Regions from separate parts of the Homo sapiens genome. Here region 2 is linked to region 1. Evidence: fine-mapped expression QTL. A gene starts in region 1. The other region holds a variant in brackets. All regions are shown on one strand. Distances are from middle to middle.

What was found.
Region 2: its variant is fine-mapped to the expression of LRRN3 in whole blood (TOPMed, PIP above 0.99). The same link has a PIP of 0.9 or more in blood mononuclear cells.

Annotation. Positions count from the first base shown.
Region 1 is chr7:111,088,020-111,093,418 of GRCh38, forward strand. It overlaps LRRN3 (leucine rich repeat neuronal 3), which reads left to right and starts at 3,108. Exons shown (of 3, transcript NM_001099658.2): 1 at 3,108-3,485. The region is part of intron 3 of IMMP2L (inner mitochondrial membrane peptidase subunit 2); the gene reads right to left.
Region 2 is chr7:111,011,469-111,016,867 of GRCh38, forward strand. All of the region lies in intron 3 of IMMP2L (inner mitochondrial membrane peptidase subunit 2), which reads right to left. Among named protein-coding and RNA genes, the nearest start is that of LRRN3, 77 kb to the right of the region's middle. The variant C/T (reference allele first, on the strand shown) is at 2,028.

The sequences.
Region 1 (5,399 bases):
TGATGCTCAGAGTCTCTAGGAAGTGGCAAGGTAAGGATTCAAACCCAGACATTGTGGCTCTAAAACCCACATTCTACCGACTGTCCAGGCTACTTTTCTAAGAAAAGCACACAGGCGAATAAAGCCCAGGATTTGATGAAATAGCAATAAACAAGTTAAAAATCCCAACCACTAAGTCAGTGAATATCTACTGTACCCAATATTTTCTTATTTGATGATGAAGGCAAAACTCTTTCAGTATAATTTAAGGGTTGTAATTATTCATTTACATTTTAAAACCATTTCAATACATTTCCATTAAAACTCAGTATTCATCTAGGAAACCCTGTAGACATTTCCTACAATGTAGGTAACATGTACAACCATGTAATACTGTGGTTTACAATGTGAAATTTCTCTGAAGCTTTAGTGCCTTCTAAAGGAAGAAACTTAAAAAAAAATGAAGGGAGAGAAGGAGGGAGAGTAAGAAGAAGGAAGAAAAGAAGGAGAAGAAGGAAAAGAAGAATTAGCAGAGACCTGTCAATCATCCAGTAGATGATAGGGTAATATGGTGGAAAAAACCTGGAATACCTGAGGGGCTCTATCCTGGCTTTAATGTGCCAACTGTGTGCTAAGATTCCATGGTTCTCATTTGATGATCACTCACAATTGTATTAATTCAAAAACCCTAAAATCCTTACTGTATTACAATGTAACGTCTTCATATGGTACTTCATTATATAGATGTGATACCAAAATAATTTTTTCATGTATCTTTGGAGAGAGCCACATTTCATATTTACAGTTAAGGACTGAACGCCCTGATAAGTGAAAAAACACCCAAAACACACACTGATTCCATAAAGCTGCTGATGCTCTTGGAACAAGATAGAAATTCCAGTCAAAGAACAGAATCGCCATCCTTTTCATCCAAAGCCAGAGTCATTTTCTCTTTCACATTAAAATCTCATTTCTAGTGCTCCATGATATTAAATTTATAAAAATGAGTATAAAATATTTTAAATTTATCATGTACCTACATTAAAAGGACAATTGCAGGAAGAGCACTCTGATCTCCCACTTTCAAAAGAGTGATCATTTAGTTAAAACAACTTCCTATGAAATAATGTAAGATAACATATAAATGGCTACCTTTAACAATTCTAACTGAATCAAAACTGAAAAGATTTTTTCTTGATTTCTGAAACAGACTGAAATTTAAGATATTAGGTATGACTGCAGTTTCATTTAAAAACCAAGAGAGGAGTTTAATCATGTATCTGACTATCACAACTTACCTTCATTATGGGAGTGCATTATAATTGGTTTGATTACTGGACTTGTCAATTATACAGTCAATACCAATCAATGAAAATTAATCACTTAAGATACCATGGCATAAATAAAAATTCTCTTTTTACAAATAATTATCACAATTTTAAGATTATTCTTCCATATGTGGAAATAAATCCTGCAGATACTGAAATAATTTGGAATATTAAAGAAACTAAGATTTGCTAGATTAAAATTAAGGGGTAAGAAGGATGATTATTACTATTATTAAAAGTACATTAAATTATATGTAAATATACTCTAACACAACATCCCAACACTCAACCATGATCCCTAACATACAGAACTGACTCAGTGCTTTCTGAGTAAATACTAGAGTATCCAGTAAATAATAAAACCTTACAATAATATTCTGAAATAAGTATTAGGTTAAATGAGATGCTACTTTTATCTTGAACTTATTTTGATTCATTTGAATAAATTCTTATAGAAAAAAACATTTGGGAACTGTTTCTAGAAAACTACAGAGTGAAAATATTCAGTATTTAAAGACAAGCCTACTGTTTAAAATTTTTCCTGGTATTATTATTATTATAATAACTGCAAACTATTGTTCTATGTCATGTCAATAAGCACTTAAGGAGCAATTAGATGTGAAGGTTTTGTTTTTTTTTTCCTAAGTAAATCTAATAAGTGCCATTTCTCTTTACTCCACTAGAGGGTAGTCTCTCAAAACTGGGGTTGGAGTCATGACTAGCCTGCTTTTGACCTGTTGATATATTAATCCTCATGTTCCATTCTCCTCAACAAGATGTTTCTCTAGTATACTAATTAAGGTTGTAAAACATGCATTTTTAAAACTGCTTTTTGATTTTTCATGTATGTTCTTTCAGAAATATGCACTGCTATGTGTTTCTGTGTTTTCCAAATTTCTGGTAATTAATAAAAATGTTTTACATGTATGGCTTATATAGTATATTTTCCTGGGAAATATCCTTTCAGAGTTAATAGGCCTAAGAATAAAGATAGTCTTTTAAATAATTTAACTTATTACAATCGAAATATTTCCCCAGAGTGGTAAAAAATACATCCTAAATACACACACACACTCACAGATACACAAACACACCTACACATGTACCCATTCATATGTAGCTCCTAGATTTATTACATCATATAAAGAGAAGTCAGTGAGTATAATTAGAAATACATATTTTTAAAAAGTACCCCCTCAAATGCCAATGTTGTGAATTACAGAGAGGCAAATATATGCTTTATTTTAAAAATCTGGTCAATCCAGACAAGAAATGTCATTGCTAAAAAAAAAAAAAAAAAAGTGTTATTGAACACCAAGCACATATGCTAAATTAAGTAGGATCTATAGAGAACCAAATGCCACTCAAAACAGTTGCAAGCTTCTCTTCTTAAATAATGCAGTCATTGCTGAACTTCAGAGACGGAGTTGGAGGTTTGAGTCTCTACCAGGTGTTTTTAATATTTAGGAAATCCTTATCAGTAGTGTGTCCTCTCTATTTGCAGACTGAAAACATATTTCTCTGAATGACTGATAACCTAAAATTGAGAAAACTTGTCAAAAATTCCCAACATTCCCTCAGAAAGGAAAAAAAAGAAGGAAAATGATACCTAGGAAAACATGCAAGCCTGTTTCATTTATTTGTATCCTAAGCAGCAGTGTCATAGAACAGACAGTTTGTTTCAGCCAACCAGACTGGAGCAGCTGCGAGTGCTACATCTTGGCTGTCTGAAGCGATTGGCTCCTCTCTGGGGAGTGGAGGGTGTTCAGTTATTAATGACCGCTGAGCAGGCAGCACCATGTCAGTGTGACAACTGATCGGGTGAACGATGCACCACTAACCACCATGGAAACAAGGAAAAATAAAGCCAGCTCACAGGATCTCTCTTCACTGGATTGAGAGCCTCAGCCTGCCGACTGAGAAAAAGAGTTCCAGGAAAAAGAAGGAATCCCGGCTGCAGCCTCCTGCCTTCCTTTATATTTTAAAATAGAGAGATAAGATTGCGTGCATGTGTGCATATCTATAGTATATATTTTGTACACTTTGTTACACAGACACACAAATGCACCTATTTATACCGGGCAAGAACACAACCATGTGATTATCTCAACCAAGGAACTGAGGAATCCAGCACGCAAGGACATCGGAGGTGGGCTAGCACTGAAACTGCTTTTCAAGGTAAGTTTAAAATACACATATATTTTAAAATACGTTCTATTTCTTGTCTCTTCGATGATCATGTTTTTACACCTAAATCCTCCTTTGATGTCTTCTTCTTGTCTGAATTCTAAGAGCATTTTTCTTTTATTGCACTTTTGAGAAGAAATTCACATGCAAAACCCAGCTGGCTCTGTGTGTGCCTAGCTGTGTTTGTGAGATTCTCCAACATGCATTTTACTAGCTTGAATGCCCATTAGAGGATGTGAGTGGGAGAGAAAAAGCAGTGTTGGGGGGAGGAGAAAAAGGAGGGAGACAGAAGAGAAGGGAACAGTGGGGGAGAAGAGAGGAGGAGAGGGAGAGAGAAGGAGATGGGGAAGAGAGAAGACAGAGAGGAGACAGAGAGGAGAGGAGAGTCACGGGTGATGGGGTGCAATTTTCCTTTTTCTTCACATTATTTGTAGTGAAAAGCAGATCACACATTATTCTCTGTTTTGAAATCAACCCACCAAATGGGGCATTTTTATTTTGTCTCATCCAGTGGATGCAAATTAAGGCAAATGCTGTTGTATGTTAAGAGCTAAACCACTAAGCAGAGTAGCAGAATGAGCATATCACAAACAGTTATTGAATTTCTGCCAGGCTACATCTTACGGACTGGGGTAAATGACTTCCCTTTAATAACATCCCCTCGCTGGTCTGAAGGGACAGTGCAAATGTCTGATTGCTAATGCAGCTGGAACTGCCACACACTAGGTGAAAGGATCCCATGAACCAGAAGAGTTCTAATCTTTGGTAATTAACAGGATCACAGCAGGATGGCTTTAAAGTACATTTCCTATTTAAGAAAATTGTTTGTTCTAACCAACTGCTATATTCCCTTTGCTGTTGTTGAGCTGGATGGCTTAATTCGGCTCTAATTTATTCATTTTTAACAATATGTCCTTGTTTCTCTGCCTCTAATTTCAGTGAAAGCAGGCTATGAATATGAGTAGAACCGTCCTAATTTAGTGAAAAGGGGATAATGTGAAAACAAAAATAGAAGTAAAGGTTCAAAATATCTACCTAGAAAATAGTGTGCTCTGGTACCATAAATATTACTGATATATTTCTCATCTTTAGTTTCAGAAGCAATGCCTTTGAGACAGAATTACTCTCAGTAAACTCTATGAGCATCCATGTATTGATGATTCATGGAATTCAGTGTGGGTTAATTTTTACTTCCAATCTTGTAAAGGGAAGCCAGCTACTTAGAATATGCTTTCAAACAGACAACACCAATTGAGGATATTCATGGAAACATTCACTGCCCTCTTTACTGGGTCCTGGAAAGACAGTAAAAGAAACCTAGCATTTGTATTTCATCTTCTGGAGCTCTCTCCTGCCTTCTTTTAGTTCAACTAACCACACAGTTAACAGAGTCAGCTTCTTTGAAACTGTGGGTTATTTTTTTCCACAACTGTGATTTCAGAGCTATTATTGGTTTCCTAGTTTGTAATATAAGCCAAAGCAAAAAGACAATAACCAGCCACTTAGATCCTGCCACTTTCCCATAAATGTGTCAAAAAAATGAGTCAGTTTACAACATGTAATATAAGAAGTCAATTAATTCCAGTGACCTTTGTAAATGATGACAATAAAGCAGCTCTGACAATATGCCAGTGGCTTCGATTTTCTCTCTGTAAGATGAACAAGTTTAAGAAGAGGGTTCCTGCTCAGAGAAAAATGAAAGGTGCTGAAGCATCAGCTTGCAATATTGGCAGCTTTGCTCGCTCTGCCTCAAATGCCACATGCAATCTATAAAAAAAACCAAAATGATTTATTACAAAAAGGAAAAAGTGTTTTATTTGCTTTTCTGCTATTTATTAAAAGTGCTGCTTTTGAAACAGACCAGATCTGATATTTTGAGGTACCTCCTAAGTTCCTAACCAAGAG
Region 2 (5,399 bases), 77 kb before region 1:
CAATTTTCTGAAGAAAAGAGTCCCCTTACTATGTCATTACTCTGAAATGAAGTCTAAGGGGGAGGGAGGCAATAAATGGAGAGCCTGTGGCCTTCTTTTCTGGACCAGGATCATTTCTTATAGCTGAGTAATCATACCCTTAGCCAATATGATGTGAGAGTTTGCAGCTTTGCTACTGGGCAAGGAACGAATTCTGAAACCATGCTGCACTGAAGACGGCAACAACTGACAAGAGTGTCAGTGAGTGTTTTCTCTATATGAGTGAATAAACAAATGAAAACAAATAAATTACTCATTTACTTGTGTGATTTTGATAGGCTATGAATCAATTCTCACCAGGAAGAAAATGTGCCTTGGGTGGGGAAGGGTATGCCCTAAGCTAGAAATTGCTATGGCTCTGGTAGGAGAGCGAGCACAAAATTCTTATGACATTGCCATTTCCTGCCATCCTGTATTTCTCTCTGGGACTTCACAGCTGGGCAGCATATTACTGGAGCCCACTTTTCCAGAACCATTTCTACTCATGTGTGGAAGGCAAGAGAAGGTAAGTATGTCCATTTTCATCCCCCTGTCTATATTGAGTAACAGATATTTATGGAGTTCGAGTGGGAAAAAAGGTACAGGGAGAGAGAATTCTATTAGTTGAGGAGCTGAAATGTAATGCAGATCAAAGGTACAGGGATAAAATAAATTTCTATGGCTATTTCAGGTAAAATTTGATATGGCTAATTTTCATATGCACCATTTCTGATGAGATGTCCAAGCACGAGTTTTCAGAGTAACAATGCAATTATTTCCATTATCATTTTGAATTTATATTGTTATTCTTCCTTTAAGGAGTTTGAGTACCTCATACAATGTTGCAATTACTTTCAGAAATGACTCACTATAGTGCGAACAGTATTTCATAATAATGCAGCCAATAAAATAAAAACAAATATAAATTTCACCTAGGCAAATAAACATGAATGCATTCAGTTCCTCTACATTATACTTTTTCAATTTACAATGAAATAATTCACATATAGTAATATTTATATATGATATTAACATAGGGGCAAATGAAACATAGTTGATAAAGACACAATCCTGACTTTTAAAAAAATTTAAACCAACCTTAACAGAAATTATGTTTTAGAAGGCCAATAAATATAGATTTAGAGCGACTATTTATACATTACATATGTGGTAGCTATTCTGGAGTTTTAGGTAAGTTAGGGTGGACACATGTTTATAGGATCACAGAACAGAAATTTCAGAGATGAATGGGTCCAATCACTTTAGCTTACAGATTTATTAGTAAAGGCTTTAGCCCCTAACTTGCCGATGAGGAAATGAAAGCTGAGAGGGTTCACTGTATCTTATTTTTTCAGAACTTGTTCAAGCTTGTTGGGAGTTAGAAAATAACGAACATCCTAAATTATTGTAAGAAAATTTGCAATTAGGAAGAGGAAGGGCTTCCATATAGCTTATGTGCACTGCAGCTTTCATTCATTCAGCACAATTGTACTGCATACCTGACGTATTATACATTGCACTAGGTACAAGAACTATAGCAGTGAGCTAGATTGGTATGATTCCTAAATTCATGAACCCCACAATCCACTGAGAGAAACAAACAAGGAGAGAGGGCCTTAGAAGACCCCTAGATAAAGATTATATAAGGGAAAAGTACCTAAGGACAGATGAGGCTGTTGTGGTAAACATGTGTGAGACTGCAAAAGACCTTATAAGCCACGATAATAACTTCAGTATTAGTACTAAGAGCAATTGAGAACCACTTAAGAGTTTTATGTAAGAGGTAGACATGAGCAAATCATATTTTATAAATATGTTTCTGACTGAAGGAGGCAAGTCAAGGCAGGCAGGCTGGCCAATGAAAAGGCTTCTACAACACTTTAAGGCAGAACATGAAGTCTTGCACAAGGAAAGTAGCAATAAGGACAGAAAGAAACAGGCTTACTTTTCGAGGTAAGACTGAAAGAATTGGGTGACTGCCTGGATGGGAGGTGTGAGGGAGATGAAAA[C/T]GGAAGGAGGGTGTGCAAGTTTCTGTTTTAGTAAGTGGGTGAACAGGAAGCCATTCAACATAAAAAGGAACACAGAAGGAGGAGAAGAGGAGGATTTGAGTGCAAGCAGGTTATGTTCACAGGCATCACTCCAAACTAACTCCTCCCACATACAAACTCCCATATATGCCCCTTGCCTACAAGTGGAAAAAATCATTCATTTTACAGTGAAGTAGAATGATTCCCTGTAACTTAGGCAATATTATAGAGTAAAATCTTAATTATGTATATCTTTTATTCGTTTAGTTTATCTGTGGTATATCTTGATTAAACATTAAGTAGACTGCTTATTTTTTTTTTCTTTTTTAAAAAACAAGTCTGGTTTACCACCTCATATAGCTTTCATCTTACCAAGAAAATTCTTTGAAAGACAAACATGTAAAAAGTTCCCTCATATCAAGGAGGTCTTGACCTAGGGGTCAAGTCAGGAAAACTGGACATATTTCCAGCTTCTCAAGTCATATATTCACAGCAAAACTTCATTATTTTGCTGGCAATTACTTTTCAGAAAAGTAGGCATATCCATAATCAAATATAAGTACAAACAGGCCAGGTGTGGTGCCTCACGCCTATAATCCCAACACTTTGGGAGGCCGAGGGAGGCAGATCACTTGAGGCCGGGAGTTTGAGACCAGTCTGGACAACATGGCAAAACCCCAAAAATACAAAAATTAGCCAGGCATTGTGGCGCATGCCTGTAATCACAGCTACTCAGAAGGCTGAGGCACGAAAATTGCTTGAACCTGGGAGGCAGAGGTTGCAGTGAGCCGAGATTGCATCATTGCACTCCAGCTTTGGCAGGAGAGTGAGACTCTGTGTCAAAAGAAAAAAAAATTGTGTGTGTATATATATATACACACACACATACACACACACTTATGTATGTACAAATTACATTTTAAATGCAAATATAAATGACTCCTGGATTAATCTTTGAATCACTGAACTCTGTTTTTATCATAAGTTGACTATTTAAAAGGCTTTTGGAATGATTTCTTGGATATGAAATGAAAAGCACAGACAACAAAAGCAAAAACAGACAAATGGAACTACATCAAACTTTAAAACTTTTGTGCATCAAAGGACACAGTCAACAGAGTGAAAGGTAATCTATGGAATGGGAAAAAAAATCATATATTTGATGAGGGGCTAATATAAAGAATATTCAAAAACCTCTTATATGCAACAACAACAAAAAACCAAATAAGCCATCTAAAAATTGGCAAAGGACTTGAATAGATATTTCTGCAAATATGACATACAAATGGCCAACAAGCTTGTGAAAATGCAAATCAAAACCACAGTGAGATATCATCCCACACCCACCCATTAGGATCACACCTATCAAACAAAAGAAAACACAAAAATAATAAGTGTTGTCAAAGATGTGGAGAATTGGAGCCCTGGTGCCCTGTTGGTGGCACTGTAAAATGGTGCATCCTCTATGGAATACAGTAAGGAGGTTCCTCAAAAAATTAAGATTAAAATTACCATATGATTCAGCAATGCCATCTCTGGGTATATACACAAAGGAATGAAAACCAAAGTCTTAAAGAGATATTTTCACACCCATGTTCACAGCAGCAATAGTCACAATAGCCAAGAGACAGAAGCAACCCAAATGTCCATTACCAGAAGAATGGACAAACAAATGTGATATGTACGTACAATGAAATCTTATTCAGCTTTAAAAAGGAAGGATAGCCTATCATGTAATAAAACATAGATGAACTTTGAAAACGTTATGCTGAGTGAAATAAGTCAGTCACAAGAAGACAAATACTGTATGATTCCATTTAAATGAGGTATCTAAACTAGTTAATATCATAGATACAGCAAGTAGAATGGTGGTTACCAGTGGCAAGAGACAGGAGGAAAGAGGGAGCTTTTTTAAAATGGGCATAGAGTTTTAGATTTGCAAAATGAAAAAGTTCTGCAGACCTGTTTTAAAACAACGTGAATATACTTAACACTACTAAAAAGTATACTTGCAAATGGTTAAGAGGGTAAATTTTGCTGTGTTTTTCACCACAATAGAAAAAAGGGCCACTTATTGTTTGAGTCTATCTACATGAAATGTCCAAGACAGGCAAATCAGTAGAGACAGAAAGTAGATTGGCAGTTGCTTAGAGCTGAGGAAACTGGCGGTAAATGGAGAGTGAATGCTAATAGGTAGAGGGTTTCTTTAGGGGGTAATGAAAATATTCTTGTATTAAATATTGCGGACAGTCCCAGAACTCTGTGAATATATTAAGACCACTGAATTGAATGATTTAAAAAAAAAACTTTTCGATGCTAGTGATTGACACACTTGTGTTGCCTTTTATATAGCCTCTCTCAAACACCAAAGACTCTTAAGCAATTCCCCACTTCAAACACTCTTAAGAAATATTATAAAGTAGTTCCTTCAGATATCTCAACAACTATTTTCTTAGATCCAATGCATTCAACTCCCTAGGAATCCTCAGACAACAAACTAAAATGTAGCACTAATAATGTTATGCTAAGAACAATGGCATAATGCCAGAAAATTTCAAGGATAAAAATATGAAATTCTCTTGCCTGAGATTTAGTGTGCATTGCAAAAAACAACTATATGTATCAGCCAGCTTGAGTAAGATGTTTTGACATCTTATCTCAACATCTAAAATTAAAACTACGTCTTCACTTTGCACTAAAAGCCTTGTGTTTCATCTAGGTTAAACTCAGATAAGAATATAGAATGAAGATTAGCTACATGGATGTTACTTGAATATTGTCTTCCTTCCCTGTCAAACTTGAAAAAAAGTCCAGTAATTATATATATAATAATTTATATATAAATTAATATATTTATATTTTTATATGATATATATTTTTATATATTTATATTTTATATAATATATATTTTACATTATATTTCAGATAATTATATATAATAAATATATATATTTATGTAGTTTATACTATATATTTTATAATATATATTTTATGTATTTTATATTATATATGTATATATTATATATTATAATATATAGTATATATAATATATAATACATACATATACATATATGTATATATGTACTATATATTATATATAATATATACATATATATAATGCATATATATTATGTGCATATATACATATATTAAACATATATAATATATAAATTATATTTCTATATTATATATAATTTTATATATATTTATATATAAAATATATATATTATATATATTATATAAATATAGTTTATATATGCATATATAATATATACTATATAATATATAATATATACTATATATTATATATAATATATAGTATATATTATATATAATATATATTATATAATATAT